6 separate regions of the Homo sapiens genome follow, and all the other regions are linked to region 4. The links come from fine-mapping of genetic effects on gene expression. A gene starts in region 4. Each other region holds a variant in brackets. All regions are shown on one strand. Distances are between the middles of the regions.

The links. PIP is the estimated chance that this variant, and not a neighbour inherited with it, causes the effect.
Region 1: its variant is fine-mapped to the expression of ITGA6 in whole blood (TOPMed, PIP above 0.99).
Region 2: its variant is fine-mapped to the expression of ITGA6 in whole blood (INTERVAL, PIP above 0.99).
Region 3: its variant is fine-mapped to the expression of ITGA6 in whole blood (INTERVAL, PIP 0.98).
Region 5: its variant is fine-mapped to the expression of ITGA6 in whole blood (TOPMed, PIP above 0.99).
Region 6: its variant is fine-mapped to the expression of ITGA6 in whole blood (TOPMed, PIP above 0.99). The same link has a PIP of 0.9 or more in T cells and blood mononuclear cells.

What each region holds. Positions count from the first base shown.
Region 1 is chr2:172,461,081-172,466,151 of GRCh38, forward strand. It overlaps ITGA6 (integrin subunit alpha 6), which reads left to right. Exons shown (of 26, transcript NM_000210.4): 2 at 4,459-4,583. ITGA6-AS1 (ITGA6 and PDK1 antisense RNA 1) reads right to left here and starts at 4,942. Exons shown (of 2, transcript NR_157573.1): 1 at 4,744-4,942; 2 at 3,182-3,494. It overlaps PDK1-AS1 (PDK1 and ITGA6 antisense RNA 1), which reads right to left. Exons shown (of 4, transcript NR_199657.1): 4 at 3,186-3,494. The variant C/T (reference allele first, on the strand shown) is at 2,236.
Region 2 is chr2:172,677,017-172,682,090 of GRCh38, forward strand. It overlaps a transcript of PDK1 not described here. Among named protein-coding and RNA genes, the nearest start is that of RAPGEF4, 56 kb to the right of the region's middle. The variant A/G (reference allele first, on the strand shown) is at 3,088.
Region 3 is chr2:172,538,589-172,543,662 of GRCh38, forward strand. The region is part of intron 1 of PDK1-AS1 (PDK1 and ITGA6 antisense RNA 1); the gene reads right to left. Among named protein-coding and RNA genes, the nearest start is that of PDK1, 15 kb to the right of the region's middle. The variant C/T (reference allele first, on the strand shown) is at 2,701.
Region 4 is chr2:172,425,498-172,430,571 of GRCh38, forward strand. It overlaps ITGA6 (integrin subunit alpha 6), which reads left to right and starts at 2,089. Exons shown (of 26, transcript NM_000210.4): 1 at 2,089-2,473. The coding sequence starts at 2,292. RefSeq lists a silencer at 2,037-2,116 and enhancers at 2,901-3,401, 4,826-5,074.
Region 5 is chr2:172,361,064-172,366,137 of GRCh38, forward strand. The region is part of intron 4 of LOC107985960 (a long non-coding RNA gene); the gene reads left to right. Among named protein-coding and RNA genes, the nearest start is that of ITGA6, 64 kb to the right of the region's middle. The variant C/T (reference allele first, on the strand shown) is at 2,142.
Region 6 is chr2:172,221,365-172,226,438 of GRCh38, forward strand. No RefSeq gene overlaps it. Among named protein-coding and RNA genes, the nearest start is that of DLX2-DT, 120 kb to the left of the region's middle. The variant A/C (reference allele first, on the strand shown) is at 2,380.

The DNA of each region.
Region 1 (5,071 bases), 36 kb after region 4:
TTTTGAAATAACCTTGTGTTCATAGCATGATAGTGAGTCCTGAGTCTCTGTGCCCAGAGCTCTGATTAGACTCCAAAGACCTGAATTTATATCATATTCCCAGTTACTGTTATACTTATATCGTTAGATTTTTACATTCCATTTTAGTATCTCAGTGTTTATTTCTTATCGTTAAAGATGATTTTGTGGTTTTGAGTTTTGCCTTTTAAGTGTGGGTTTCTGATATGCTGAAATCCCAAGGCAGTTTTTATTTCGGTGCAGCTTTAAAATTCAGTGGAGGTCATTGTCCACTGGCCGGTTTTGAAATGATCTTAGTTCACACCCAGATTCTTGCCCTTTGTTTAGTTTTTCTTGCCTTGACCGCATATGGGAATAGACCTCTCAGGCTCTGCTCTGTTAATTTCTATCACCTCCCTACAAAGGCCCTAACTCATATCCCTTGGTCCCTGTGGCTCTGAAGGTCGAGTTGTCACATAGCTCTTTCCTCCTTCAAACGTACTGGGATGGTCAGTAATGAGTGCTGCAGCTGCCCTGGTCCTAGGAGTTGCTGTGAGCATCCTGGTAGTGCCCAGAGAGTACCTGCTTTTCACACTGAACCATCTGGGTGGCCTGGGCCCAGTTTTTGGCATTTAAGGGCCTTGGAGGGAAAGGGAAGAAAGCTGGAATTTGAGCATAAATTGGATTTTGTGTGGGCTGAGGGTCCTCCTAGGTGTAGACTGTCCCTCCTGGACCTGTACCCACTCTGCTAGCTCAGGAGCCAACCATGTCCTGAACAGCTTAGACCAGCACCCAGACCCTAAATGACCTAGATTAGGAAGTAGATAGGTTGTTCTCTGCTGTCATTGTTTGGACACAGCTCTATTTACCTTATTTATTGTTCCTGCTAGGCACAGCCTCAGCTAATGGGCTGTGATCTCCTGCCTTTAAGGCTGGTTCCAGGCGAATTAAGAGCCTTTGCTTGTTTCCCAAACCAGGGAGGGCAGCTTTACCTTGAGGATGAAGGCGCCTCCAGTTGCTGAATGTGGTTGGGGTTACTGTGTTCTCTCATCAAGGTGTAGCTTTACCTTACCTTTCGGTGATGGGTTCTGCCACCTTATCGCGGTGGGTCCCAGGAGACCGGGCGCAACTGGAGCAGGGGCGCCCTCTGCTGCTGGGTGTCAGCTCTTCCTCCCACGGCTGCCCAGGGGATTTGCAAGGGGCGGTGGAACACTCCTGCTTCCTCCATCCCCTGTGGGACCACCTGAGGTGGAGGAAGGACAGTGCCAGGACCATGTGCAGGCTGAGCTCGCCCAGAGGCGGTGCAACAGCTAACGTTATTCTCTGTGGGTACATTTCTCTTGTCGTTTGCAGGTCTCTTTTCGAATCTGTTGTCCTTTTTCCCCAAACCAGCCTGCTGCCCCCATCCTGCCATGTGGTCTGCTGTCATCTGCAGTAGCCGCCGCATGTAAGACACGAGGACCTCTTCTGCAAGAGCTTGGTGTGGGCATTTGTGAAATTTTGTCACCACAGCCCCTGTAACCAGCCAACAAATTCGAGTTAAATGCCTATTCTTTGTCCCACACGTATTAGTTACAGAGAGTGGAGAACAAGTGGCAGATAGAGGCTGAGGGAAGCCAACCCACTCTGAGGGACTGGGCATGTAAATGGGACAACCTCCACAGCTTTTTAAACCACAGGACACCCAAAAGCAGCTGTACCCTGCAGGACACAGCAGGCTACAGAAGCCTGGGGTTCAGAGGGTCTCTGACCCTTCGTCCTTTAGCGCTGCTGACCAGGCTGCTGATCCTCGACCCCTTCTTGTCACCCATTGTGTCCCTCTTCTCCCTTTTCTCTGGCTCCTTCCCTTGCAGCCTTTGCATATGCTGTGTTCCTTACCTGGCCACCTCCAGTCCCGCTGTCATCTCTTAGTGACATCCTCCCTTCCTCTCCAGCAGGTGCTGGTGCCCACAGCACTCTGTACCATCCTCTCATTGCCTCTAGCTCCCTGTGGTTTCATGACCTCATGACCTGTTCACGGATCAGGCTTCCCCAGGCCAGAGATTGAGGAGTGGGGGCAATTCCTTATTCATCCTAGGAGGCTCTTAATCAGCGTTTGTTGAGTGAATAGGTGAACGAATGTGGGAATGGGATAAACAGGAAATAAGCCCTGTGCCTGCCTTAGGTAACTTAGTAGCCACCTTGGGTGTGGGTGAGAAGAGGAAGTGGTTAGGAAGACACACAGTTAAGACAATGGGA[C/T]TCCTGTGCTGCTTTTTCTAGGCTTCTCTTTGCTGGTGGTTACCTTTACAGGAAATCTCTTACCCAGCCTTCACTCCACCCAACTGCAATAATGCTTTTCTTCCTTCCCCTCTACTTGGCTCTATTATCTTAACTTTTATCAGCATACAGAACAGTTTTGGTTGTGATGTTTTATTTGTGTAAGTTTTGCCCTTTCAACTAGGTTGTAAACTTGAAATCCTGGGTTTTACTTCCTAAGCAGCTTTGTAAAGAAATGGAGACAACATTGCACCAAGATAATTTTTGTCATGGCCACCCACTAGCTGTGAGATCTTGGGGGATGAGTAATTAAGCTCCTCAAGGCCTCTGTTTCTTTATCTGTAAAACTGGAGGACTGGTCTCTCTCAGGGGCTTCCAGTGTGAAAGTCCTGGGGTTCTGGGCCTCTGATCCTGGCACCCCACTTATCCCTTCCAGCACCCTCCACATGACTCCACCTCTGACATCTGCCAAGTACAGTAATTTAACACATTCACCTTATAGTCTAGGCAGTTCACCTCCCAGGTACTTGTTTGTTGGCATTCCTGGGATCGGGGACATCACTGGAATAGGAGTGGAGCAGACCTGTGGGGACCCTTGTGGCCCCGGCCTTGCCTCTGTCCTCTGTCAAGAAGGTTCAGGCACCAAGGACACTGCTCCAGTTCCTAATTTAAAAGTCTGTGTGTCAGTTCTGTACCTTGGTGTGTGCTGTTTTGTTCCTTCAAATGTAGGGTGGGTTTGGAGGTGGGGGCTGACTGTGACTGTCCAGGGATCTGGGAGGAAGGACAGTGCTGGGGCTATGTGTTATCCATGAGCCACCCCTCCTTCTCTGTCTGGGCATCATCTGGCCCCCCTCCCTGCTTTCCAGGTACACTTGCCTCCGGTGGCACCTGCTGCATGATATTGGTTTAAAAAAAATATGTTGAATCCTTTATTGGAATGATTCCTTTATTGGGACCCAACAGGCATGAAGGTAATAGAGACTATTTGGTTTGTATTTTCATTTGTTTTGCTTTTGCTTCTGAGATTTGTGGGTTTCTTGATGGCCAGGAGTGGCTTGTTTTCTGTTGTAAGAATTTGTTGTTTGTACAGGTTCGTGTTCCCAGTCCTTTTCCTCAGCTCCAGCCTTGTTTCCAAAACTCTCAGCTCTTGGTTTATCTCTGTCCAGTCAGGTGTGTGTTCTTTGTCTTTGTTTCTTGTCCTAGTTGTTCCATGAGTCAGCCAGGCCTCAAAGATTGTAAACCTGATGGTGAGTAAAGGTGTTAGCAAAAGAGACCTAGCAACAAGGTCATTGGATCTCTAAAGAGCCTGTCAAGCTGTGAGATGGTGAAATTTTAAGGACTGTGGATTTGGACTGGGGGCCTCCTTATAGGAGATAAAAACACTCGGCTGGGGAGAAGAAGGAATATTACAGTGCCTAGTACATAAGTGGAGCTACACCAGTTGTCCCTGAATCCTTTGTGGGAGACTGATAGGATGAGAGAGGACGAACTCTTGTAATGTGACAAAAGTGCAAGGAAGTAAGAACTGACTTGGAAGAACAAACATCAACTTGTACACCTCAAATATATCTGCTTTTTATTTGTCCATTCTACCCTAATAAAACTGGAGGGAAAAAAAAAAAAGAATTGGAAAGAGGCCAAGGCTGCAAGTGAATAATTCAGTCGAGTTGTATCTTACTTACCATTAGGTTCTCTCAATTAGTATATAAACTGAAAATCTAAGATATAGTCAGAATTACCCTTGAAAACTACCTCAGGAAGGCACAGTGTTAGAAACTGACATATTATTGCTTATTACATTTAGTGTGGCCATTTTTTCCTTCCATTGTCACAAGTATTTGGTTTCTTCTCTTGAGTTTCATATGATATCCCTGGCATCATAGGGGCTTAGAGGTTGTATTCTTTGAAGAGGGTGTCTTTTAAACACCAGATCATACCCAGCAAGAAATGCTGATACTATGAGAGACAGGCCTATTTTCCTCGTTTTGGTATCCCCTCTTTGGCTTCCCCTGTTTAGTTGTGTTTGTGCGTTTTGCATGAACCAGCCATAGGACTCTACATTTGTTCTCACTCACTGCCTAAGCTGTTGAAGAATTAGTGGACTCCTAGACAAAGAATAATCCCACTATCTCCTAGTTCTGACTGATTTAACTGTTAAACGTATATTAAATTCAAATCTCCAAATTGTCTCTGTTTCATCAACAGGTTGCTCGTGGGGGCCCCGCGGGCAGAAGCGCTTCCACTGCAGAGAGCCAACAGAACGGGAGGGCTGTACAGCTGCGACATCACCGCCCGGGGGCCATGCACGCGGATCGAGTTTGATAACGATGGTGCGTTCCTTTCCCTCACTCAGCGTTCACTCCGGCAGCTTGCCTGTACTGTTTCCATGAGGGAGGAGAGTGGGGACAAACATTTATTCTTGTAGAGAGGACTTCTTTTAATTGCATCAGACTTGACTGTTTTTTATTTGCCCTGAAAATATTTACTTACTTTACTTCTGAATCATACTGGGATGCCGCGTGTTTTGCTGCTCCTCCTAACCGTGGTTTCTAAACCGATATGGTGTAGGGATGTTGCCACCTAGTGATGTGTTGAGGTTCTGCAGGAGGTTGTGGAAAAACTCATTTCATAGCAATGAAGAGAATGAATGAGCGTATCTTGTATTCATCAGCCAAAAGTTCTCACATGCTGTTAAAATATTTGGGAGAAAGACAGTTTTAAATATCAGACCCCTTTGGAATGAGAGCTGGCTAACAGAGATAAAGTTTTCCCTCCTGTCTCAGATAGAGACTTGTTTTGTTAAGGGCTCTGGATAGGT
Region 2 (5,074 bases), 250 kb after region 4:
TATTTTAAAATTAAGATACGTATAGTGTTTTTTAAATACATAATGCTTCTGCATACTTAACAGACTACAGTATAAAGTAAATATAACTTTTATATGCACTGCGAAACAAAAAAAATTGTGTGACTTCATTGCAGTATTCATTTTATTGAAGTAGTCTGGAATCAAACTCACATATCCCCAAGGCATGCCTATACATTGCTTTTGTTGCAGTGTGATAAATGGTGTCGTTTTTGCAGCAAGTAGCATTTTTGCTTCCTCAGATGGGACCGGAAAGTTCAGAGATTTTTATTAGTTAAGGTAGCAATGTGCCATGCTTCTTTCTTTCTTCATACACTTCCTTTATTTGCTGAAGCCTTTCTTCCAGTAGCTTCCTAGAGTATTTGCAAGGTACATTTTGTATCTATTTTGCCTTTACACTTGATTATTTGATTGGGTTTAGAATCCTGAGAAAAAGTAAATTTTTCCTTAGAATTTGAAGAGAAGTCTCAGGACAACAGCTTTTCAACAAGTCCAGACAGCAACTTGCTCTGGATTGCAGCCAGAGGAAGAGGGCTCCAGGAACAAGGCTGTTAAGGGAAAATAACAATTGGAAGTGTTTGAGCACTTAGGAAAATTATTGCCTAGACATTTCACAGCTCTGTTAAAGCATTTTGGGAAAAATAAAAGTACACAAATAATTAAACATCTTAAAAAGAGGCAGTTGTTAACTTCAGAGAAAACAAAAGTTTATACAAGAATGAAAACATCACAGTGAAGTTATTTGGCTTAGCAGTGAATAATACTTAGATGGTCAAAATAAGGTAAATATTGATTATGGATTTAATCCAAAACTGTATAGCTACATTGGGAGGATGAATAAAAGGGAAATTAGGCCGGGTGCGGTAGCTCACGCCTGTAATCCCAGCACTTTGGGAGGCCAAGGCAGGCGGATCACCTTAGGTCAGGAGTTCGAGACCAGCCTGGCCAACATGGTGAAACCCTGTCTGTACTAAAAATACAAAAATTAGCCGGGCATGGTGGTGGGCGCCTGTAAATCCCAGCTACTCAGGAGGCTGAGTCAGGAGAATCCCTTGAACCCAGAAGACGGAGGTTGCAGTGAGCCAAGATTGCACCACTGCACTCCAGCCTGGGTGACAGAGGGAGACTCCGTCTCAAAAAAAAGAAAGAAAGGGAGTCAGAGGGCTCAACCACAAAGGGAAGTCTATCGATCCTGTAATGAATCACATAGAGACACTTCTGAGAGTGAAGGGACCACTGGCTATAATTATTCTGAGACAACAGGTACAAATTGGAATTGATGGGCAAACTAGATGTATGGTCACCCAAATTACAGGCATATTATTTTAAATGTAGAGGTAAATGCCAGATGAGACAGGTAATTCAGTTGGAAGTGGCAGTCTCTAGGGAGTGGGATTGGTGGTTGGAGAGAGTAAGACAGGAGACTGTTGGCTTTTAACAGTCTATTAGTACTATTTGATTTAAAATAATGCTTATGCATTATATTAAAATAAACTTAAAAGTTGACTTTTTAGAACAGATTAGATTAACATTGCCTAATGCTTTTTGATATAAACCAAAATGTTCCTTTTATAGCAAGAGGCCATATAGAAGGACTCCTGGAATACTTACTTCCTATACTATGTATTTGATTCTTTCCCCAATTTAAGAAAGGTGCCACTGGAGGGACAATAAGTACTAGGTCCTCTTTGTCTCTGAAATAGGGCCTTGGCACAAAGTAGATGCTTATTAGTTATTTGTTAATGAATAAAAGCAACATTCAGTAGCATTTTCAAAGGCAGAAAAACCTTTGAGAAACCAGGTTTATCAGATGATATTTCCAAGTACAGGTGTAATGGCTTACCAGGCTTACCCTGAGTGGAGTTCATCAGAAGGGGGTCCGCAGGCAAAGTGAAGCAGGGAAACCTTTTTTGTTTTTACAAAATATAGCTCTAGAGCTTAGAGTGTATGATGTTGACTCTGTCGCAGAGATTTCTTTAAGACAATGGTACCTAAAGCAATAATAATTGAACATTCAGAAATATAGCCTGTAATGTGTGCCTTTAGGGATAATGGTATGTTTTTTACTGCTGACTTGATGCTCATTAGTTTGAAACTTCCCTAAATTTTTATTCTCAAAGAAAATTTTAAGCCAAGCATGATGACTCATGCCTATAAATCCAATGACTTGGGAGCCTGAGATGGGATGATTGCTTGAAGCTAGGAGTTCAAGACTAGCCTGGGCAACATAGTGAGACCCTGTCTCTAAATTTTTTTTTAAAGATTGGTCAGGTGTGGTGACATGCACTTGTATTCCCAGCTGCTTGGGAAGCTGTGGCAGGAGGATCACTGAAGCCCAGGAGTTTGAGGCTGCAGTGAGCTATGATGCCACTATTGTCATCCAGCCTGGGCAACAGGGCAAGACTCTGTCTCTTAACAACAACAACAACAACAAAAGAATATTTTATTTTTCATTGTTATTTGAGCAACAAGATGAAGTCATGAAGTCTTGAAGAAAGAAAGAACTGGAAGCATTTTCTTTTGGAAAACATTTTTATAGCCTAATGTACTATAGTTTTGAGGAGGGTTTGGATCAGTGATGACCATCATAGGGTGAACAACTTGTTCAGAGTATTTGCAGTAAAATAGGCCCAATAGATTGTGAAATTGTAGCTTATTGTATATTAACATGTATCCTCTAAATTGAAGTTATAATGGAAAAAAATGGGGAGAGAAAGAAAAAAAAAGAATGGAAGCAAAACAGAAACAAGAAAGAAAAGAAGGTAATAACTCAGCAGATCTAGCTATTGGAAACCAGGTCGAACACAGGTTAAATCTCTAACCTTAGGGTTTTGGGTTTTTTTTAGCCTCTTCATTTAGAGCACACCTAAACTTAGGTTTTTTATTTTTTATTTCTTTAAGTAGAATTATCTGTCAAAACAGACACAAGACCCTATTTCAGAGACACAAGAAATACCAAAACCAGTCTTCTTAATTTGAAACCATTTTCCCCTCAATGCTTAAGAGAAAACTTATATCAGGTCCATTTTTCTTAGTAGAGTTATATTGTAAAACTTTTCTTGACCCCCA[A/G]GTTCAACCCCTAATATACCAAATTCCAGCCAGGTGCTTCTTCCTTGCATGCTCTGTCACAGTCTTTATCACAATTGCATATTAGTAATTGTTTACTTGCCAGAATTTTTCCTGAATTGCAAGCTCTCGGAAGGGGCCATTCTATTTTGTTCATCATTGAATGCCCTAGGTTCAGTATTTGGGCATAGTGGATGCTCAATCAATATTTACTGAATAAATGAATTGTACTATCCTTTCTTTCTTTCTTTTCTTTTCTTTTTTAAATAGAGACAAGGTCTCACTCTGCTGCCTAGGCTGGAGTGCAGTAGCGTGATCATAGCTCACTGCAGCCTTGAACTCCTGGGCTCAAGTGATCCTCCCACCTCAGCCTTTGGAATAGCTGAGGGTACAGGCATGCACCACCATGCCCACTAATTTTTATTTATTTATTTATTTATTTTTTGTGGTAGAGACGGGGTCTAGCTATGTTGACCAGGCTGGTCTTGAACTCCAGGCTTCAAGCACTTCTCTCCCTCAGCCTCCCAAAGTGCTGGGATTATAGATGTGTGCTATCGTGGCTGGCCCTATTCTTTTTTACTTTATGTCTACAGGAACCTGTCTGGAAACAATGTGCACTCATTGAAAACTTGACTCCAACAATAAATTCTGAATTTGGCAACTGGTCAAAGCTCTCTAGTCCAAAGGGAATAAGACAATGGGTATTGTGACAGCTTACAGGCAACAGAGAGCTTAAGGCAGATCTCAAAAGCAGCTACAGAGGGCCTGGGCCAATTAGACAAAGGAAAAACCTGGGATTGCCATCAGGCTTTGACACTTCTCTTTCTTTTTAGTGACTGTTGGCTCATTCCTTAGCCTATGAAGCAACTCAGGGGAAGTATAAATTATGGCAAGAAACTATACTCCATCTTTCACCTGGCAACAGGCTTAGTACATCTGGCTTATTTCTGAGCTGTTGTGTGCTGCTAGATATTGTGATCTCTCTTGTTTTGGACTGTAATAACTCTGAGAGTTTTTCTTTCTCTTTGGGAACAGTTTGGTAGCAATCATTTAAACTAGGCACTGTATTTAATTTATTGGGAACGAAAGTTGTGCCCACAGAGGAAAGGAGTGAAAAGAAGTTAAGCGATGCTCTGAACCAGGGACAAAATCCGTATTATTACATAATGCCGCCCCAGTCCCAGTGAAGTTGATAATTCTGATCACTAATAGTGGACATGCACATTATGGAGCTTTATTATTTAATTTTGAATTTTGTTTTTGCAGTGGGGATAGACTTGTGCCAGTTAATTAGTGTTCTCTTTTCTAATTCCCTTGTGAGACTTGGCATGCAGCTGAGAGGCAGTCCTTCCTAACCATGAGATAGAAAATGAGTTATCAGCACCTACGTGCATTGAGTACTTCTCTCAGCTTCTGTCATTCATTCATTCAACAAATATTCATTGAGCACCTATTATGGGGCCAGACATTATTCTAAGTGCTGGGGAAACAACAGTATGTAAAGTAGACATGATGTTCTAGTTGCGGAAGATAGACAATACACATAATAAATAAGTAAATTATACATGTTCAGAGGTGATTAATGGTATACAAAAGGAAAATCAGGGTAATGGGCATGAGGAGTGTAAGTGGGCAAGGTGGGGAATTGCAATTTTATCTATTAGTTATTATTATTTTTTATGGAGTCTCAGTCTGTTGCCCAGATTGGAGTGGAGTGGTACGATCTCTGCTCACTGCAACTTCCATCTCCCAGGTTCAAGCGATTCTCAAGCCTCAAACTCCTGATAGATGGGACTACAGGCACCCGCCACCACACCCGGCTAATTTTTGTATTTTTAGTAGAGACAGGATTTCACCATGTTGGCCAGGCTGGTCTTGAACCACTGACCTCCAGTGATCTGTCCACCTCGGCCTTCCAAAGTGCTGGGGATTAAAGGCGTGAGCCACCACGCCCAGCCAGGAATTACAATTTTAAATGAGCAAGTCGATG
Region 3 (5,074 bases), 110 kb after region 4:
GGATGACAATGGCGGTTTTGTGGAATAGAAAGGGGGGAAAGGTGGGGAAAAGATTGAGAAATCGGATGGTTGCCGTGTCTGTGTAGAAAGAAGTAGACAAGGGAGACTTTTCATTTTGTTCTGTATTAAGAAAAATTCTTCTGCCTTGGGATCCTGTTGATCTGTGACCTTATCCCCAACCCTGTGCTCTCTGAAACAAGTGCTGTGTCCACTCAGGGTTAAATGGATTAAGGGCGGTGCAAGATGTGCTTTGTTAAACAGATGCTTGAAGGCAGCATGCTCCTTAAGAGTCATCACCACTCCCTAATCTCAAGTACCCAGGGACACAAACACTGCGGAAGGCCACAGGGTCCTCTGTCTAGGAAAACCAGAGACCTTTGTTCACTTGTTTATCTGCTGACCTTCCCTCCACTATTGTCCTATGACCCTGCCAAATCCCCCTCTGCGAGAAACACCCAGGAATGATCAATAAAAAAATAAATAAATAAAAAAATAAATAAATAAATCAATAAAAAATAAAAAATAAATAAATAAATAAATCTTCCTTTCTGTGAGCCACATTTAGAGATTCTAGATTTTTAAAAAACTGCTTAACATCTCTTTGAAAATAATTCATAATACTTGTGGTTAAGTCATAACCTTAGTTGAGGTTTGTTAGTTTCACCTGTGAGGTTGCTTTTGGTAAAGTTCAAAAGCCAGAAATATTGGCGGCTTGACCAACTCAAGTAATAAGGGATTTGAAAATATTTTTTAAAAGAGCACCATGGTTAAAAGTCAGCTTATATTAAAAGTGGAGAGGCTGCGTGTGGTGGCTCACGTCTGTAATCCTAGCACTTTGGGAGGCCGAGGCGGGTAGATTGCATGAGCTCAGGAGTTTAAGACCAGCCTGGCCAACATGTCAAAATCCTGTCTCTACTACAAACACAAAAAATTAGCTGGGCATGGTGGCATGCACCTGTAATGTAAGCTACTTGGGAGGCTACCTCTTGAACTCAAGAGGTAGAAGTTGCAGTGAGCTGAGATTGTGCCACTGCATTCCAGCCTGAGCAACAGAGTGAGACTCTGTCTGAAACAAAAAAAAATTGGATATCCTAGCTATAGGTATATTTAAAACACCTTTATGTCTTTTTTTTCTCTTCTTGGATCTTGTTTGGTTGGAAAAAGGTTTTTGTCTTCTCAGTTGACTTAATTTTTTTTTCACTCTTAATGCACACATGAGAAGCCTAAGATAATTTCTGATAGCCTGGGATTCCTTGGGAAAAACAGAGAAGGCACCACAGAACCCATTTTGGGAAAAATGTTTTCCTCAGGGAACTCTAACTAATAATTAAAGTCAGATAGATCCCTCTCAAAATCTGTTTTTGTCTTCAAGCTGTACCTACTTATTAGGCCCTAGAAACGGCATGTTTTCCTACCGGTTTTTTGAAGAGCTCAACCCGAGTCCAGTAACCCAATTAGGAGATTGGCAAGTGAAAAATCTGTCAGGGCCAGGTGGCTGACACCTGTAATCCTGGAACTTTCAGAGGCTGAGGTGGGTGGATCACCTGAGGCCAGGAGTCTGAGACCACCGTGGCCAACACGGTGAAACCCCATCTCTACTAAAAATAGAAAAATTAGCTAGACATGGTGATGGGTGCCTGTAATCTCAGCTACTCAGAAGGCTGAGGCAGGAGAATCACTTGAACTCAGGAGGTGGAGTTTGCAGTGAGCTGAGATCACATCACTGCTCCCCAGCCTGAGCGACACAGCAAGACTGTGTCTCAAAAAAAAAAAAAAATCTTATAACTAGTGGATCTTCTTCTGTCTGTGTAGTTATGCATGTGATATGTATGTGATGTTTATATAAAAAAGAGCTCCAATTAATTGGATTAAGTAAAAATAAGCACTTAGATCAAATATTTTTAAAGAAAAAATAGAAGCTGTAATCCCTTTTAGTTCATGTGACTTTAATCTTTGAGAAATAAAAAAAGTCTTAAAGGTTATATGACAAATGTCTTCAAAATGTAAATATGTGGTCTAAATTATGCAGGTCAAATACTTGGATTACTAAATACTTTAAGGTCAAAAACTGCTTCTTTGGCTTTTGAAAGTTGTTAAGACTTGCCTGCTTTACAGTTTAAGGCCTGGGGACATATGGATTTAACTGTACCCCTAACTATGCTGGAAAGACACCTTACCTGTGCCTAGTACATAATTAAAATAACTAACCAGGTTTTACATTAACACTAAAAATATCTAAGAGTTACCATTATAACATGTAACGGAGGCTACCGAAAATAGATTTACATGGAAGGTGTAAGAGAAAAGTAAAATATGTTTTTAGTAAAAGATTATAAGAAGGCATGGGAATGTAAATTTTTGCCTAGAGGGTTAAAGGATTGTTTTAAATTAAAGGTTTGAACAAGTTGTGGAAGGTCTGTAAAAATTAACTTTGTAAAAGAAATCTTGTGTGTAAATGTATTGACTAAATTCAAGAGTATTATTTGGTTTTTCCACAAATAGAACATGGGAATAAAAGGAAAACAAGGTTTTCTAAAGGCACTGATCTGCTCTTTAACAAAAATGTGTAAAGAGTTATAAAAGGCTTATAAGAGGATGGGCGCAGTGGCTCATGCCTGTAATCCCAGCACTTTGGGAGGCTGAGGTGGTCGGATCGCCCAACCCCATGTCAGGAGTTCGAGACCAGCCTGGCCAACACAG[C/T]GAAACCCCATCTCTACTAAAAATACAAAAATTAGCCAAGTATGGTGGTGGGTGCCTGTAATCCCAGCTACTCAAGAGGCTGAGGTAGAAGAACTGCTTGAACCAGGGAGGCGGAGGTTGTAGTGAGCTGAGATCGTGCCACCGCACTCCAGCCTGGGCAACAGATCGAGACTCTGTCTCAAAAAAAAAAAAAAAAAAATGGTTTATAAGAATCTCACCTGACAGATGAACAGGTTAAGATTTGATAGAATTACCTATAAGGTTTTTTGTTGTTGTTTTTGAGGCAGAGTCTCACTCTGTCACTACCCAGGCTGGAGTGTTGTGGTACAATCTCACTGCAACCTCCGCCTACTGGGTTCAAGTGATTCTCCTGTCTCAGATTCCTGAGTAGCTCGGATTACAGGTGGGTACCACCAGGCCCAGTTAATTTTTGCATTTTTAATAGAGACAAGGTCTGTCCATGTTGGCCAGGCTGTTCTCGAACTCCTGGTCTCAAATGATCCCCTGCCTTTGTCTCCCAAAGTGCTGAGATTACAGGTGTGAGGCACCACCCCCAGCCTATAAGGTTTCGTTTTTTAAAAATTAAGGCTGACATTAATAGAAGACTAATGTAAGGGTGGAATTTGGCTTTCTCTCTCTTAAACAAGATTTTCACGTAATATAATTAAAGGATAATGAAAGACTTTTGTTTGTCTTGCAAATAAGCTACTGAAAAAAAAAGGAAGGGAGATACAAGAGACAGACTGTTTGGAAACCTAAGTCTTCCCTCTAAATGAGTAAAGGTTTTTGCTTTTTAAAAAAATTTTTGGGCTGACTCTCTTTTTGGACTCAGCTCGCCTGCACCCAGGTGATTAAAAAGCTTTATTGCTCACACAAAGCCTGTTTGGTGGTCTCTTCACATGGACGTGAGTGAAATTTGGTGCCATGACTCAGATCGGGGGACCTCCCTTGGGAGATCAATCCCCTGTCCTCCTGCTCTTTGTTCTGTGAGAAAGATCCACCTACGACCTCTGGTCCCCAGACCAACTAGCCCAAGGAACATCTCACCAATTTTAAATCCAGTAAGTGGCCTCTTTTTACTCTCTTCTACAACCTCTCTCACTATCCCTCAACCTCTTTCTCCTTTAAATCTTGGCGTCACACTTCAGTCTCTCCCTTCTCTTAATTTCAGTTCCTTTCCTTTTCTGGTAGAGATGAAGGAGACACGTTTTATCCGTGGACCCAAAACTCCGGCGCCAGTCAAGGACTGGGGAAGACAGTCTTCTCTTGGTGTTTAATCACGCGGAGACGCCTGCCTGATTATTCACCTAAGTTTCAGAGGTGTCTGACCATGCAGGGACGCCTGCCTTGGTCCGTCACCCTTAGCAGCAAGTACCGCTTTTCTGGGGGGCAAGAACCCCCCAACCCCTTCTCTCCGTGTCTCTACCCCTTCTCCACTTTTCTGGCGGGCAAGAACCCCCCAACCCCTTCTCCTTCACCCTTAGCAGCAAGTACCACTTTTCTAGGGGGCAAGAACCCCTCAACCCCTTCTCCTTCACTCTTAGTGGCAAGTACTGCTTTTCTAGGGGGCAGGAACCCCCCGACCCCTTCTCTCTGTCTTTACCCCTTCTCTGCTTTTCTGGGGGTCAAGAACCCCCCACCCCTTCTCTCCGTGTCTCTACTCTCTCTTTTCTCTGGGCTTGCCTCCTTCACTATGGGCAAGCTTCCACCCTCCATTCCCCCTTCTTCTCCCTTAGCCTGTGTTCTTAAAAACCTAAAACCTCTTCAACAAACACCTGACCTAAAACCTAAATGCCTTATTTCCTTCTGCAATGCCACTTGACCCAATACAAACTCAACAGTGGTTCCAAATAGCGAGAAAATAGCACTTTCAATTTTTCCATCCTATGAGATCTAAATAATTCTTGCCGTAAAATAGGCAAACGGTCTGAGGTGCCTGACGTCCAGGCATTCTTTTACACGTCGGTCCCTCCCTAGTTTCTGTTCCCAATGCAACTTGTCCCAAATCTTCCTTCTTTCTCTCCCGCCTGTCCCCTTAGTCCCAACCCCAAGCATCGCTGAGTCTTTCTAATATTCCTTTTCTACAGACCCATCTGACCTCTCCCCTCCTCGCCAGGCTGAGCTAGGTCCCAATTCTTCCTCAGCCTCTGCTCCTCCACCCTATTATCCTTTTTATCACCTCCCCTCCTCACACCAGGTCCGGCTCACAGTTTCGTTCTGAGACTAGCCCTCCCCCACCTGCCCAGCAATTTCCTCTTAAAAAGGTGGCTGGAGCTAAAGGCACAATCAAGGTTAATGCTCCTTTTTCTTTATCCCAAATTAGAGAGCATTTAGGCTCTTTTTCAACAGATATAAGAACCCAGCCCAGTTCATG
Region 4 (5,074 bases):
GATATCCAAGCAGAGGGAGCCCTTGCTGCATCAGGGCTTAAGGGCTTAAACTTTCATTTGCCAGGTTGTGAGGAAGTTGCTTAGTCCTAGGAAAATGGGCAGGGCAGGGATGGTTGCCTGTGAGGAACTAAGGGCAGCAGCTTTTATCAACCAATTCAGAATATTTCAGTAACCATTACAGCCAAATCACCAGCTCCTGGCTGAGTACACTCTGCAGTGAGGTTCATTATACTATGCCTATAATAGTCTGGACCCCATCTCTCTGGAATAGTACATATTTTACACGAAGGGAAAAGGCTAACTTGCAACTTATTTGCATGAAAAATCACGTTGCAAGTACTTCTTAGTTTACTAGATTGTCTCCAATAGTTTCTCAACCTTATCAAGATATATTTGTTAAAACTGTGTGCTCTCCAAAATCATCTACTGAATTTAAACCACTGCACCCCACTTTGGACTATAATTGACTGGAGTTACTGATTGGAAAGGAAGTGGTACACACCCCTAATATACTGACGGACTTACTCTGACAGCTGCTACCACCTGTGGGGACCCTTGATGATGTTCACGCAGCTTTTCTGAGTGGCACATGCTGTTCTCTTGAATACTCCTTGAGGTGAAGAAGAGGCCACCCCTACCCCTATGCACACACAGCTCCTGCTCTTTCCTGGGGCTGCACCCTGCTTGTATTTCCAATGCAGGGATGTCAGATTCCAAAGAGGGCTCCCCAAGGCATTCCAGAAGGCTTCAGGCCAGCACGTCCCAACCTTTTCATGCCATGGGACCCCTTTGGCAGGCTGCTGAAAACCATGGGGTTCTTCTCAGAATAAGGGTTTTAAATACATAAAAGAAACCACAAGAGGTTACAAAAAAAGCCAATAATATTGAAATGTAGCTAACAAAATGTTTTTAAAAATTTGTGCTAGAGCAATATATATGCTTCATTATTGACATATAATATCTGGCTGATTGTCTAATAACTACTGTTATTTGAGATACTTGCAACAACTGTGATGTGATGTAAAAACCTATGGTTTCTAGTGATTACTAAGTCATAAATACTTATCCTACTGCTACTGTAGTTTGTTGTCTACGTTCATAATGGCAAAACGTGCTAAATGTCAGAGGTTGGTGAAAATTAAGACGTAAATTTTTTCTCATCCAAGTTCACAGTACTCTTGAATTAATTACCTCTCCTCGGGTTAAGAACCCCTGCAGGATAAGGTTGCCCCTAGGGCCAACACCTCACTGGAGCCCCGCCTCATGTCCTGGAGGCAGGAGCCTTCATGCCACCTACACAGAACTCGGAGCTGTCTCTTGGCCCAGCAGTTCTCCCCACAACTAGTTCTGAAAGTCCGGGGCTAGGAAAGAACGGCATCGTCGCCTGAGCTCCTGGCGCCACTTTAAACAACCCATCCTTGACTTGCGTGACTTCTTCCACAAGCTCTCCTGGTCACCTGGGCAAAATCCTAGGTGATCTGGGGACAAGGCGGAACTTCGGTTTTCTGATCTGCAAAAAGAAACACCTACCTCATAGGACTGTTAGGATGAATTGAGGTAATGGCTGGGTTGTGTACATTATACAGCACTATCAAGGTGTGCGCTGTGATCATTTTTGAGGGTTGTTAGGTGTTTGAGGACCCAGAACAGTCTACACAGCTGTAGTCCCCAAGTGTTGGGCACGCCTTAAGCGCTCCATAAACACCTGTAGAAATGAATGAATGACGTATGCATCTGCACGTGGGCCCACATCTGCAAGAACAGGCTGCTCAGGCCATGAGGCCCGGTGCATCACCTGCACTTCTCTTTATAACGGGTAGTAAAGTCTCCCTCGCTCTGTGCTACTCGGCAACCACAATTCTGTCCACAGAGGGCGGCGCAGTGGGGCTGCTTCGCCGCGAGCTCGCCTCCGGGGCTCCCACGTCGTGGCTTCCGGGCAGGTACCGGGCAGCTGGAGACGCCAGAGCCGGCGGGTAAGGTGCGGGCGGTGCGCCGGGCCGCGGGCGCGCAAGGAGGGGCGAGAGGGTGGGGAGGGGCGGGGCCGGCGTCCTCGTCACTTGATAAAACGCCTGCGAGTCTCCAGAGAACAACGGGCTCATTCAGCGGTCGCGAGCTGCCCGCGAGGGGGAGCGGCCGGACGGAGAGCGCGACCCGTCCCGGGGGTGGGGCCGGGCGCAGCGGCGAGAGGAGGCGAAGGTGGCTGCGGTAGCAGCAGCGCGGCAGCCTCGGACCCAGCCCGGAGCGCAGGGCGGCCGCTGCAGGTCCCCGCTCCCCTCCCCGTGCGTCCGCCCATGGCCGCCGCCGGGCAGCTGTGCTTGCTCTACCTGTCGGCGGGGCTCCTGTCCCGGCTCGGCGCAGCCTTCAACTTGGACACTCGGGAGGACAACGTGATCCGGAAATATGGAGACCCCGGGAGCCTCTTCGGCTTCTCGCTGGCCATGCACTGGCAACTGCAGCCCGAGGACAAGCGGCTGTGAGTTCCCAGACCCTTCCCACCCCCACTGGGGCGCCGGCCTGCGCGCGAGTTGAGGCGAGGGCGCGCCCTGTTCCCGCCGGCCCCGGGGAGTAGTTGGCCCGTGGGTCGCGCCCGGGCCGGCCGAGGCGCACCCAGCGCCCAGCGCGCTCGGCTCCCCGCCCTGACCCGCCCCGCGCGGCGCCTCCCTCCATTCAGCTCGGGAAGGAGGAGAACCCGAGGGCTAGGCTGGGCCCCGGGAGAGTTTACTTTTTTTTCTGTTTTAAACAAAGTGCTTTCCGCCGGTTCTTCCCTCCGGGCGTGTTTGCTGGGACCCCGGCAGGTGGCACGCTTTGCTGAGCTTCACGTGTGTGTTTGGGGCTGGGGTGGCGTTCAGGGTCACCGCAGCGCTGCTGTGGGTTTGCAGGGAGCGTAGTTCCAGGATGGTCTAGGCCTTTCCCAAACTCACGGTGCACCCCGTCTCCCCCGCAGACTGGCGCGCCCCGCACAAGTTGGAAAGCCACTTTCCATGTGTCCTGCATGACTTTCTCAGCAAGGCGGGGGCGCTCCTTAGGAGATACTTTTACATGCCTTTGAAAAAAAAAAAAAAAAAGATGGGGGTGGGGGCGGGAATTAACCAAACACCTGTTCGCTGGACTAGATCAGCTGAGAAAACAAGTCTGAGTGATGTGCCCAGCCCCCAAAGTACTCGGCCGCACCCGAGACCCGCTCGGCTCCTGCGTTGGGCGGGCACAGCCAAGGGGTTAAAGCAAAATGTCCGATCTGAGCCTGGACTTTGCAAACAAGGTTTGTAAGGGACAACCCCCCACCGTAGCGGTAAACCTCCCAGGAGAAAGAGGAGACCGGCACTACTGGCCTCTCCTTTTATTTCTTAAACAGTGTTTGGTTCCCACATGATCGGCTATTTAAGCCGGAGAGGGTATTTTGGCGCTTAGTCGCCTTAATCGCTATGGGGTTGCATTCTTCATCTGTGCTACTGAAAAATAGGCTGTAGCAACAAAAGGTCTCCCCTCCCCACCCAGGCCTTGAGTTGAACTAAGGACCTTCCAGGACCAACAGACCGGAGAAAGCAAAGTGCAGCCACAGTGAAGAGATTTTGTGTTTAGGAGAGGCGAATGGGATTTTAGAACTGGAGGAAACCTCTTGATTTCAGCGGTTAACAACTTTGGAATTCGTGAATGTTGCAGCCCCTGAATTTTAGTCAGTTTTTTTTTTTTTCTGATAACACCTGCTAGGTGAAGCACAGAAATTAGCTGGGGGTGGGGAGGCTCTAGGAGGGTGGTCTGAGGCTATATGCCTGGCCAGCTGCTTATACTCTGCTTTCTCTCAGAAATAATTGTTGTTAAGCTGTAAATCTGAAATGAAAGGTTCCTGTTAACTCAGTTAATAGATGACGTTTATTGTCTCGGAATACTTGGTGTGTAGAATTTGAGCTTGTTAGTGCAGAAATGATTGTGGGCCAGCAGAGGGAATTCATTCTCCTGGGCATTCTCTCTCTGCACCAGAGCCCCACTGAAACCGGTGGCTTCCTTGAAATACTTGTTCAAGCAAAAAGTGTGAAGGGAAAGTACTGGGACAAGAAATATCCTGGCAGTGGAGATTTGCGAAACGTGACTTTGCCAGGAATCTGTGTCGTGAAGGTTAGCAGCATGCTTGCTAAAACTTGTTACTGCTGCTGGGCTTCTCTGGTATTAGAGCTGAGGCAACTCCTCCCGAGGTAAGGATAAGCCTGCAATGGGGTCTGATGCCTTCTAGGAAAGCTCTTCTTAGCAGCTGACAGAGGGGAGAGGCCCCGTATAAGGAGACTGTATGTTTCCTAGAGTCCAAAGGCAGTGACCACACTTTAAAGAGGCTGTGGTTTATGTCACGTGCTGCCCACCTCCATGCTTTTGTAAAGCTTTATTCCAGCTTCAGGAATAGCATTGGTCTTCCCAGGAGAACCAGCACACACAGGCCATAGCACAGGTCAGTTGTCAACCTTTGACAGTAAAGAATGTGGGTGTAAATGGCAGAGCCAGTAAGACTGAGAAAACTTCTGGACCAGCTTCCTAAACTCTATGGAAAAACTCAGTGGGGGTCTTTCAGGGACCTGGTGGGAGAGAGACCTAAGCTGAGATTCCTTCTCGGCCTTTTATTAGCAGCTGTTAATTTACTTTGAGCTTTAATTTCTTTATCTGTAAAATGGAGATATTACTGCTTACTGGGGTTATTATGAGGATTAAGAGATAATATGCAAAGTGCTTAATGCCTGTCTGGCATGGGTACTTGCTGACTAAATGGTAGCTGTTAATGATCATTTAAAAAGCAGTAATTGTGTACCTACTGTGTGTCAGGTACCTTACAAGGTGTCTTAAACATTCTGTGATTCTAAGATTGCCTGAGAGTAAAGCCAAAGGTGGTTGTTTTTGGGTAATGATATTTTAAACTCAGTCATATTTATGAAACCCATGTTCAAAGCAACTTAACTTTAATAGGTCTTAATTAGACTTATAACAAAAGTGAGTTTAATGAACAGAGGACTTTGAGGAAGGAGAAGTAAAATATCAGATGCATGGGACGGTCAGATAAAAGCACGATCATAGAAGACCTATCATAAATGTT
Region 5 (5,074 bases), 64 kb before region 4:
AATTAAGTCTCCATTTTAATCTTGTGTAACTGGGCCCATTCTCCTACCCTCACTAGCAATATGAAAGATTGGAGAGGAGAGGGGAGCACCTGATAAGGCCTTGTATGAGGAGGCGTCTCTGAAAGCCTTGGGTTGCTTTGCTGTCTTCCCTGAGCTGGGGTAGAGTAGAAAGAATTAGATGATGGGGGAATTTACTGCAGTATAAAAGCATAAACCTTTGGCCAACATGAAGATTTTCTTAATCTGATTAGGTGCCTGGCATTCAGAATCATTTAATGCCTATTGTACAAAATGAATAAAAATGTGCTGAACTTCAGCTGCTTAATAGAACAAATAAAATTATAATTTACTAGGCTAATACATCACAAGGAATGGGGCTGTTTCTCTTTGGGGAATCTAGAGACCTGTGATTCAGAGTTCTGAGTCGAAAGACTGATTTGAACACTGAAGAATCCATAACAACAGATAACAAACAGGTCAAAATCCAGCAAAGGGCGTGCTCACCCTTTCCCAAATTCCTCCTCTGTTCTGGTATTTACCATATCTGGAACAACGTCAGAACCCTAGTTCTGATGATATTTTTATAGGATTGACTGGAATGGCAATTACCCTAGAATATTTAACTTTTATTATCCCAGCAATTCCATCTAGAATATATAAAAAGGCAGGAGAAACTGCACTCAACTCCACCTTCCCATTGCTAATTTCCTTCCTTTCTAGTCAGTTAATAGGTCTCAAGAGGCTGTGTTAAGACAGTATGTTCAGAAGCTTTCAATTTTTTAAATTCTGTTTGAACATTTTCTACCCAATCTATAATATCGCTTCTCCAACAGAAAAGCAACAATTATAACATGGCTATGGCTTTTCTTTGAAAAGGAAAAAGAATGGGGTGGGAGCAAGGGTGGGGCAGAGAGGGGCACGTGGGCTTGAAACTAAGTGAAGACATGTGTGGCCAATACAGATTCGCAGAGAGGCAGCTGGGAATATGCTAATATCCCATCTCTCCTGTTCAGTGCCATCTAGCTCCTAGCGATGGGGAAGAGGCGGGAATGCCTGTCATTAATCTGCTGAAAACTACACCTCAAAGATCATCTTGAACTTGATGTTGATTGAGAATTGATATTAATTTTCCCAACTTATCTTTTGGAGAAGGAGCGTGGACAAATGAACTTGAGGCTATCTTTTTTTTTTTTTTTTTTTTGAGACAGAGTCTTGCTCTGTCACCCAGGCTGGAGTGCAATGGCATGATCTCTGCTCACTGCCACCTCCACCTCCCAGGTTCAAGCAATTCTCCTGCCTCAGCCTCCTGAGTAGCTGGGACTACAGGCGCCCACCACCATGCCCGGCTAATTTTTGTATTTTTAGTAGAGGCAGGGTATCACAATGTTGGCCAGGCTGGTCTCGAACTCCTGACCTCAGGTGATCCACCCGCCTCAGCCTCCCAAGGTGCTGGGATTACAGGCCTGAGCCACTGCACCCAGCTGAACCCAAGGATATCAATGGGTTTAAGCTATGGGCACCTGATTCCTGAGCACTGCACAAAGACACTGTCACAAAGACACTTAGGCAAAGACAAGTACTACTTCAACACTATGGATTTCACAACCATGGACAGCCACAGAAACCTGTTGTTTGAATGTTCATTGACTAAATACGTGTTAAGAATCCCCTAGCTGGTCAAACCTATTTGGGCTTTTTCTGCCTTCTTTGCTAAATTCAATATCCAAGGACATTTTCTACCACTCTCCCCCTTGTGTGCTCCAGCCGTAGTAGCATCCTCGCTGTTTCTTGAACACAACTAGGGTGGCTCCCACCCGGGGCTTCTATACTTGACAGTCCATCTATCCAGAAGCTCTCTCTCAGATAGCAATATATGGTTCCATCACCTCCTTAGGTCTTTGTTCAAATGTTATCATCACTGAGAGTTCCATCCTTCCCCAATTCTCTGACACCTCCATTCAGTCTGCTTGATCTTTCACTTATGTATTTATCATCTCTCTCTTTCTCCCCTAAAATGTGAGCTTCCTGAGGAGTCTTGGTTGTTCACTGCTATATCCGTCCTCATCCTAGATTGGTGCCAGGCTTAGGGTAGGCACTAAGTAAGTATTTATGCAATGACTAGATAAATGAATGAATGTCCT[C/T]CTGAAGCCGCTTTCCTTGTGAGGAATCACATATCTGCATATCATCTATACATTTTGAGGAAGTTAGCATCTAGGGCAACCATGTCCAACCCTTTGAAGGCAAGGATTTTTTGCTTATTTCTGTGGAGGAAATCACGAAAATTACGCACAGAGTCTTGCTCTGTCACCCAGGCTGGAGTGCAGTGGCACAATCTCAGCTCACTGCAACCTCTGCCTCTGGGGTTCAAGCAATTCTCCTGTTTCAGCCTCCCAAGTACTGGGACTGTAGGCACACGCCACCATGCCCAGCTAATTTTTGTATTTTTAATGGAGATGGGGTTTCACCATGTTGGCCAGACTGGTCTAAAACTCCTGAACTCAGGTAATCTGCCCACCTTGGCCTCCCAAAGTGCTGGGATTACAGGTGTGAGCTACCGCACCCAGCCAATTATTTTATTTATGTATTTATGTATTTATTTATTTATGCATGTCAGCTATTGTTAGTGTTAGCATATTTTATGTGTGGCCCAAGACAATTCTTCTGCTTCCAATGTGGTCCAGGAAAGCCAAAATGTTGGATACCCATGATCTAGGTCCTGTAATGTGCTTTTGTTATTTTCATAACTACGGCAAGCAACGCTTTTTTAAACACATATTTATTTCCAAGTGAAAGTAATAGAAAATAGGAAATTCATTTGATCAGTTAGCAAACTTTCACTGAATATTCACTCACTCTACAATAGATCCTATGGTAGGTCTAGGGATTCAAAAATTAATTAAGACGTAATTGTTGATTTCAAGGAATTTCTGGCGAGGCATGGTGGCTCATGCCTGTAATCCCAGCACTTTGGGAGACTGAGTCAGGAGGATTGTCTGAGCTCAGGAGTTTGAGACCAGCATGGGCAACATAGCAAGACCTCATCTCTACTAAAATAAAAAAATCGCTGGGTGTGGTGGCACATGCCTGTAGTCACAGCTACTTGGGAGGCTGAAGTGGGAGGATCACTTGAGCAGGGGAAGTTGATGATGCAGTGAGCCCTGATTGTGCCACTGCACTTCAGCCTGGGCGACAGCAAGACCCTATCTCAAAAACAAACAAGCATACAAAAAAAAAAAAAAAAAAAAAAAACAAGCAAAAAACTTCTACTAGGAAAAGAAAAACAAACCAAAGAAAGAACAAATAATATGTGCTATAGTGGAAACCATGTTACATTCCTCAGGGTAAAAGGCTAAGCAGCTTTAACAAACAGACCCAACAATTCTGTGGCTTAAAGAAACAATGAATTCATTTATCTTGCCTAACAGTGAGGGTGGGTAGGCAGGATGGCGTACACAGTCATTGAGGAATCCATATTGCTCCCCTTCCACCCAAAGACTTTGTCCTTCTCTGCATGACTGAGGTAGATTAGATTATTGCTCAAAAATAGTTATTTCCTCCCCTAAACCTCTATAAAAGATGTTTTGTGCTCCTCCTCTTGAATTTGGCCTCCACCATGTGACTTGCTTCGGCCAAGGCAAGGTTGGGAGCAAGTGTGGCTCAAGCAGAATTTTGACATGTGCCTGCACAGCTAGGCTCACCCTCTGCCATCCCTGCCATCACAGTAAGAAGTTGCCCTAGGTAGCTGCTGCCCCTTCAGCTTGGGTCTCAAAATGAACACTTGTGGAACAGATCAGAACTCAACCCCAGCAAGAGTCAGGCCCTGCCAGACCCATAGCTTGAAGCAAAGGCACTTAGCCAACTCTCCAAGAGAAGAAATGATTCTTGTTTTAAGCCTGGGTTTTAGGGTGGCTTGTTACCTAGTGCTAGCTCACTGATGCAATGGTGAGCACTGGGTTTCATAATACATCCATGTTCCAGCTCACAGGAAGGGGACAGAGAGCAGAAAAGCAATGCAGTGAGGTGGGAGTGGCACAAATCACATCTGCTCACGTTCCCCACACGGTCACACAGAGCTGCAAGCTGAGAGTGGGGGTGGTGTGGGAAAGTCAGTCTGTGGTAGGGTGGCCATGTATTTAGCTACTTCCCCATTGTTATGGAGAACAGGGAGAATGGATTATTTATTTATTTATTTATTTATTTATTTATTTATTTATTTTCTGAGACAGAGTCTTGCTCTGTTGCCAGGCTGGAGTGTAGTGGTGTGATCTTGGCTCACTGCAACCTCCATGTCCCGGGTTCAAGCAATTCTCCTGCCTCAGCCTCCCGAGTAGCTGGGACTACAGTTGCCCGCCACCACGCCCTGCTAATTTTTGTACTTTTAGTAGAGACGGGGTTTCACCATGTTGGCCAGGATGGTCTCGATCTCTTGACCTCATGATCCACTTGCCTCGGCCTCCCAAAGTGCTGGGATTACAGGCGTGAGCCACGGCGCCCGGCCAGGGAGAATGGATTTTAGGGGCTAGCTAGCAGTACGTGCTACATGCAAACAATGACCGAAATGGAGAGGTGAAAGGGACCATCAGAAGACATTTCTCAGAAAAACAAAATACTTTGGTTGAGGCCTGGGGGTGTGGAAAAGGCAGGGAGAAGCATTCCAGGCAGAAGAAGCAGTGCACACAAATGGGAAAAATACACGGGAAACTATGGCTTGATGAGGGGCGGTAAAGAGATTGATGTGATTGGAGTGGCATCGATGGTGCTGGAAGGAGAGCCGGTGTAAGCAGAGGCCTAGCATGATTAAGACATTTGGGCAGCTGAGAGGGCACATAGTTTGTTTTACTTGACTTTCTATCCTGATAGATCTTTATGATCGTTACATGGTCACAGAAAAAAATAGAACTGAGGCAAAAGTTTTATAATGTGCCAGAGCTGGTTGTGTGCACCTTCTCTGTTCTATCTGACTTGTTTTCTCCTAGGAAATGGGAGGTGGGCATGTGCTTCCACCTGGGTGCCCCCATGTCTTTGACATGGTCCTCACTCCTGCAGCTTCAGGAACCACAATGCACCTTTTCCA
Region 6 (5,074 bases), 200 kb before region 4:
TGTCCCAGGAAACCCCCCAGTCCTGAGCAAATGGAATGGCTGGTCACCTGTTCCTGCTCTGGTGGGCACTCTCATCTCATGCCCTCCACTCAGGCTCTGAGCCAAAGCAGTGCCAACCTTTCCAGGTGAGCTCTGCTTTTCATAACCACCTAACCCAATGTGGGGAGGGAAGGGGGAAGCAAACCACATCAGTGTCTTCTCCAGGGCTAAAGTACAAAGGAGAAATAGTTTTCCTTTTTCCATGCTTTTTGTTTGGAAGAAGGAAGATAGCTCTAAGCCCGATGGTACCAGGATTTCTCTTTTATTTTGCTCTGAGCTGTCCAAATGGCCTTAAATATGTTTGATGTTCTAATCTATAGGAGAGTTATGGGTATTCTTGCTGAGTAGTACATTTCTTTAATATTCCTGAACCATAATATATGTCTGTATGTTAGAGGCCTGCCAGCCAGCCTCTCAATGTGACTTACCTTCTGTGCGGTTTTGTGAAAAGTTGACCTGGATTTTGCTTAGATGGCTTTAGAAATGGAATCCATCAAAAATATATTTCTTCCTATCTCTCTCTTTCTAAATTGCTGTTTGATCTTGTTGTAGTCTGCTAAATCTTGGCACTTGCTTCAAGTTGCACATCACCCTTTTTACATGGTTTGACAGATATAACCAACTTTCATTTGAAATACATACAATATATCAAATATTACTGGTTATATAGAATATTGGTTATATAATACATACAATATATCAAACATTATTGGTTATATATAACACCATTGCACATATGTAGCTCATTTTTTAAATTTAGTGCATCAACATAAAAAGGAATGAATTAATGGCATTTGCAGTGATCTGGATGAGATTGGAGACTATTATTCTAAGTGAAGTAACTCAGGAATGGAAAACCAAACATCTTATGTTCTCACTGATATGTGGGAGCTAAGCTATGAGGACGCAAAGGCATAAGAAGGATACAGTGGACTTTGGGGACTTGGGAAGCATGGGAGGGGGGCGAGGGATAAAAGACTACCAATATGGTGCAGTGTATACTGCTTGGGTGATGGGTGCACCAAAATCTCACAAATCACCACTAAAGAACTTACTCGTGTATCCAGGCCGTGCGCGGTGGCTCATGCCTGTAATCCCAGAACTTTGGGAGGCCAAGGCGGGTGGATCACTTGAAGTCAGGAGTTCGAGATCAGCCTGGCCAACATGGCAAAACCCTGTCTCTACTAAAAATACAATAATTGGCTGGGTGGTGCTTGCCTGTGGTTCCAGCTATTTGGGAGGCTGAGGCAGGTGGATCATTTGAACCCGGAAGGCAGAGATTGCAGTGAGCCAAGAGCGTGCCACTGCACTCCAGCCTGGGCAACAGAGCGAGACTCTGTCTCAAAAAAAAAAAAAAAAGAAAAAAGAAAAAAAGAACTTAAGTAACCAAATACCACCTGTACCCCCAATAACCTGTGGAAAAATAAAAAATAAATAAATTTAGTGCATCAAAAGTTTATCCATTCATTTGCAAAAATGCCATCTTTACCCATCAATTCCCACCGAATGATACACAGCTGACCCAAATTATTTAAATGAAAGTGTCTTTGATCTGTTAAAAAAGCATAAGAACCAAAGCTCCATTTCAAAGCTGCAGTAAGACCTAGTTTGTCAGACAGAACTAAAGATTCAAGGCCAAGGGTTGTGTTAGGGATGATAGGATTGTATGTTCTCTTTACAAAAACAGAAATTAGCCAGGGCACAGTGGCTCACACCTGTAACCCCAACATTATGTGAGGCCAAGGTGAGAGGATTGCTTGAGGCCAGGAGTTTGAGACTAGCTTAGGCAACATAGTGAGACCCTGTCTCTGTAAAAAATTTAATAATTAGCCAGACATGGTGGTGGGCACCTGTAGTCCTAGCTACTTGGGAGGTTGAGGCGGGAGGATTGCTTGAGTCCAGGAGTTTGAGGTTGCAGTGAATTATGATCATGCCACTGCACTCCAGCCTGGGCGACAGGGCGAGACCCTGTCTCTGAAAGAAAAAAAAAAAAAGAAAAGAAAAAAAAGACACTGGACATCATAATTGACCAGAATGGGGCTAAATATTTGCCCTCCTTTTGCTATAGCTACTCACTTGGGAAAAACTGATTTCATTAGGCAGAATTTCCCCAGGCTCTGTACTTTCTTCAGATAGCCTTGGTATGTTAGGAAATGTTTGCATTTACCAGAGACTAAATGGCTGTTTTTTCTCTAAAACTTGTAACATTTCCTTCAAAAGGTGAATGCAAGACAACCAGCCCCTCCCTGCAATTTGCTGAGCTAGTGTACTGGTAATATGGGCCAAAGACTGTGATCTCTTCCTAGAAACACCTGGCTGGTTACAGACACACAGGAAGAA[A/C]AATTGGGTAAACACAACCAGCTTTCCGTCAAGTTCTGGTGGGGGCTACCCTCACCACTTCGACTGAGAAGACACAGTTTCCTCCCAGAAAGTTCTTGGGGGTAGAGGAGTGAGTATCCTGGACCTTGGAACCATTGGCTACCTCGTGCCTCTCTTACCTGCGCCCTTAAGAAACGTTTCTGTTCCATTTCTGGTTCCTTTTGGAGGAATGCCATGGTTTTAATGCTAATGACTCAGCAAACATTAGTTCTTTTCCTTAGTTATGGATGCTTTTGCTCCTTTTAATTTCTAATCTTATTTCCCAAAGATTTTCCCCACCTCAGCCCACCACCACAGCAGGAATAACTTTATTTAGAAAAAATATTGGGGCCGGGCACGGTGGCTCACGCCTGTAATCCCAGCACGTTGGAAGGCCGAGGTGGGCGGATCATGAGGTCAGCAGTTCGAGACCAGCCTGGCCAACATAGTGAAACCTCGTCTCTACTAAAAATACAAAAAAATTAGCCGGGCATGGTGGTAGGTGCCTGTAGTCCCAGCTACTTGGGAGGCTGTGGCAGGAGAATTGCTTGAAGTCGGGAGGCGGAGATTGCAGTGAGCTGAGACCGCACCATTGCAGTCTAGCCTGGGTGACAGAGAAAGACTCAGTCTCAAAAAAAAAAAAAAAAAAAAAAGAAAAACTATTGGGTATTTTCTAAATGAGTAAGATCTACTTTACATCTTCAAACCTTCACTGTCAGCGGACCTTGTCTTCCAGTTACCAAGAGTGAGGCCACCTAACCTGATGGCCTTCTTTCTACCCACCTGAAAATCTCTGTTTTTACCCATTTCCTCTCCCCTCCTCATATCTGAGGAGTAGAAGTGTCCGTCTTCTTTACATAGTTAATATTTTCCTCTGTATCTTCTGTCACCTCCCACCACGCCTCTTTTGGACCTTGCAGAGTCCCTTTTCTCTGTATCTTTAGTCTGGTGTTTTCATTCTTTCCTTCTCCACTGAGTCCTCATCTTACACACAAGTTCCAGCTTCCAACTTTTATATTTTTTAATATTTTTTTCGAGGCAAGGTCTGTCTTTGTCACCCAGGCTGGAGGGCAGTGGCATGATCACAGGTCACTGTAGCTTTGACCTCCCAGGCTCAAGTGATTCTCCCACCTCAGCCTCCGGAGTAGCTAGGACCACAGGCCTGTGCCACCATGCCTGGGTAATTTATTTTTACTTTCTGTAGAGACAGGGTCTCCTTGTGTTGCCCAGGCTGGTCTCAAACTTCTGGGCTCAAGTGATCCTCCTGCCTCAGCCTCCCAAAGTGCTGAGATTACAGGTGTGAGCCACTGCATCTGGCCAGCTTTCACATTTTAAGGAAGTCACCTGCTCCACTGTTGCTGCCCTTTCAAGCTACTCCCCTTCCCTTCATTGCTAGTCTTCTCCCTGTGTTATCTGGAACATCCCATCCTTCCAGACCCTGCTCAATTGCTCAAAAGCCTCCAGGTGGGAAGGACCTTGTGCTGCTGCTCTCTGCTCCCTCTTTACCAAAATCTCTCTTCCTCCATAGGAAAAACTCATCCTCAAGACAGCCTCCCCATCCCCCAGTCCTTATGACAGTGTGCTAAATCCGAGAGGAAAAACCCAAGGTCAAGTTTTCCCTTAGTAGAGCCACCAATGGGAACAGTAATCTGTCTGATCCCTGCATTGGTTGACCTGTTCAATTTAGGCATCTTCCAAGGACAGATGCTAGTTGGAGATGAGGTTGGTGAATAATTAAATCTGAAATTACATTAAGAAAAGAAACAGTTCCTCCTTTAGCAAGGAATCTAGTCCAGTTTCAGGGAGTTACTGGGCTTCCTGTATCATGTGGCTTCGCATTTGGTTCCTATCCATTTAATTTCTATCTTGGGTCTGGTTGTGGGTAGGGGAAGGATCTCCCAGTATAAAAGAGGAGCTACACCAGTCTTTAGTGGATCTTTTGTTACTCAAAGAAGGGCTCTGGGCATTCTATTAAATATTAAGATTCTTTCTGTTTCATTTAATTGCTGTTTCTCAGCATCCTGTGACCCTATAATTTGTCCAGGATGGTTCTTCCTTGACCACTATAGGATGTCAGGTATCCTTGTTTTCCTCATGTCTCAATGGCCCCTTAGGGGCCGCTGACAACAATGGTTGAGAAGACACTATTTTCCCATAAATGTTTACATGCTGTGGCAGGCAGAATTCTCAGATGACCCCCAATGACCCACCCCAGTATGCAGTCTGCTCTTCCTGAGTGTGGGAAGCACCTGTGAGTATGATGATATTATGATTGTATTCTATGCGATGGTAAAAGGGAGAGTATCCTGGTGGACTTGACCTAATCTGATGAGCCCTCTAAAAGCAGAGAGTTTTCTCTGGCTCGCTCCAAAAAACAAAGTCAGAGATTTGAAACAAAAGAAGAATTTGGCATGGAATTGCTTATTTGAAGGTAGAGGCCACATGGCAATGGATGTGGGTAGCTCTCTGGGAGCTGAGAGCTGGACCCCAGTCTTACAAGAAAATAAATTCTGCCAATAACCAGTGAGCTTAGGCAAGGACTCTGAGCCCCAGATAAGAGGTGAACAGACGACCTTGTTCTGTGCCTGGACTTCTGGCCTACAGAACTGTGAGATAATAAGTTTGTGGTAACTTGTTGCACAGCAACAGAAAACCAACACCCATGTGTTTGTCTTTT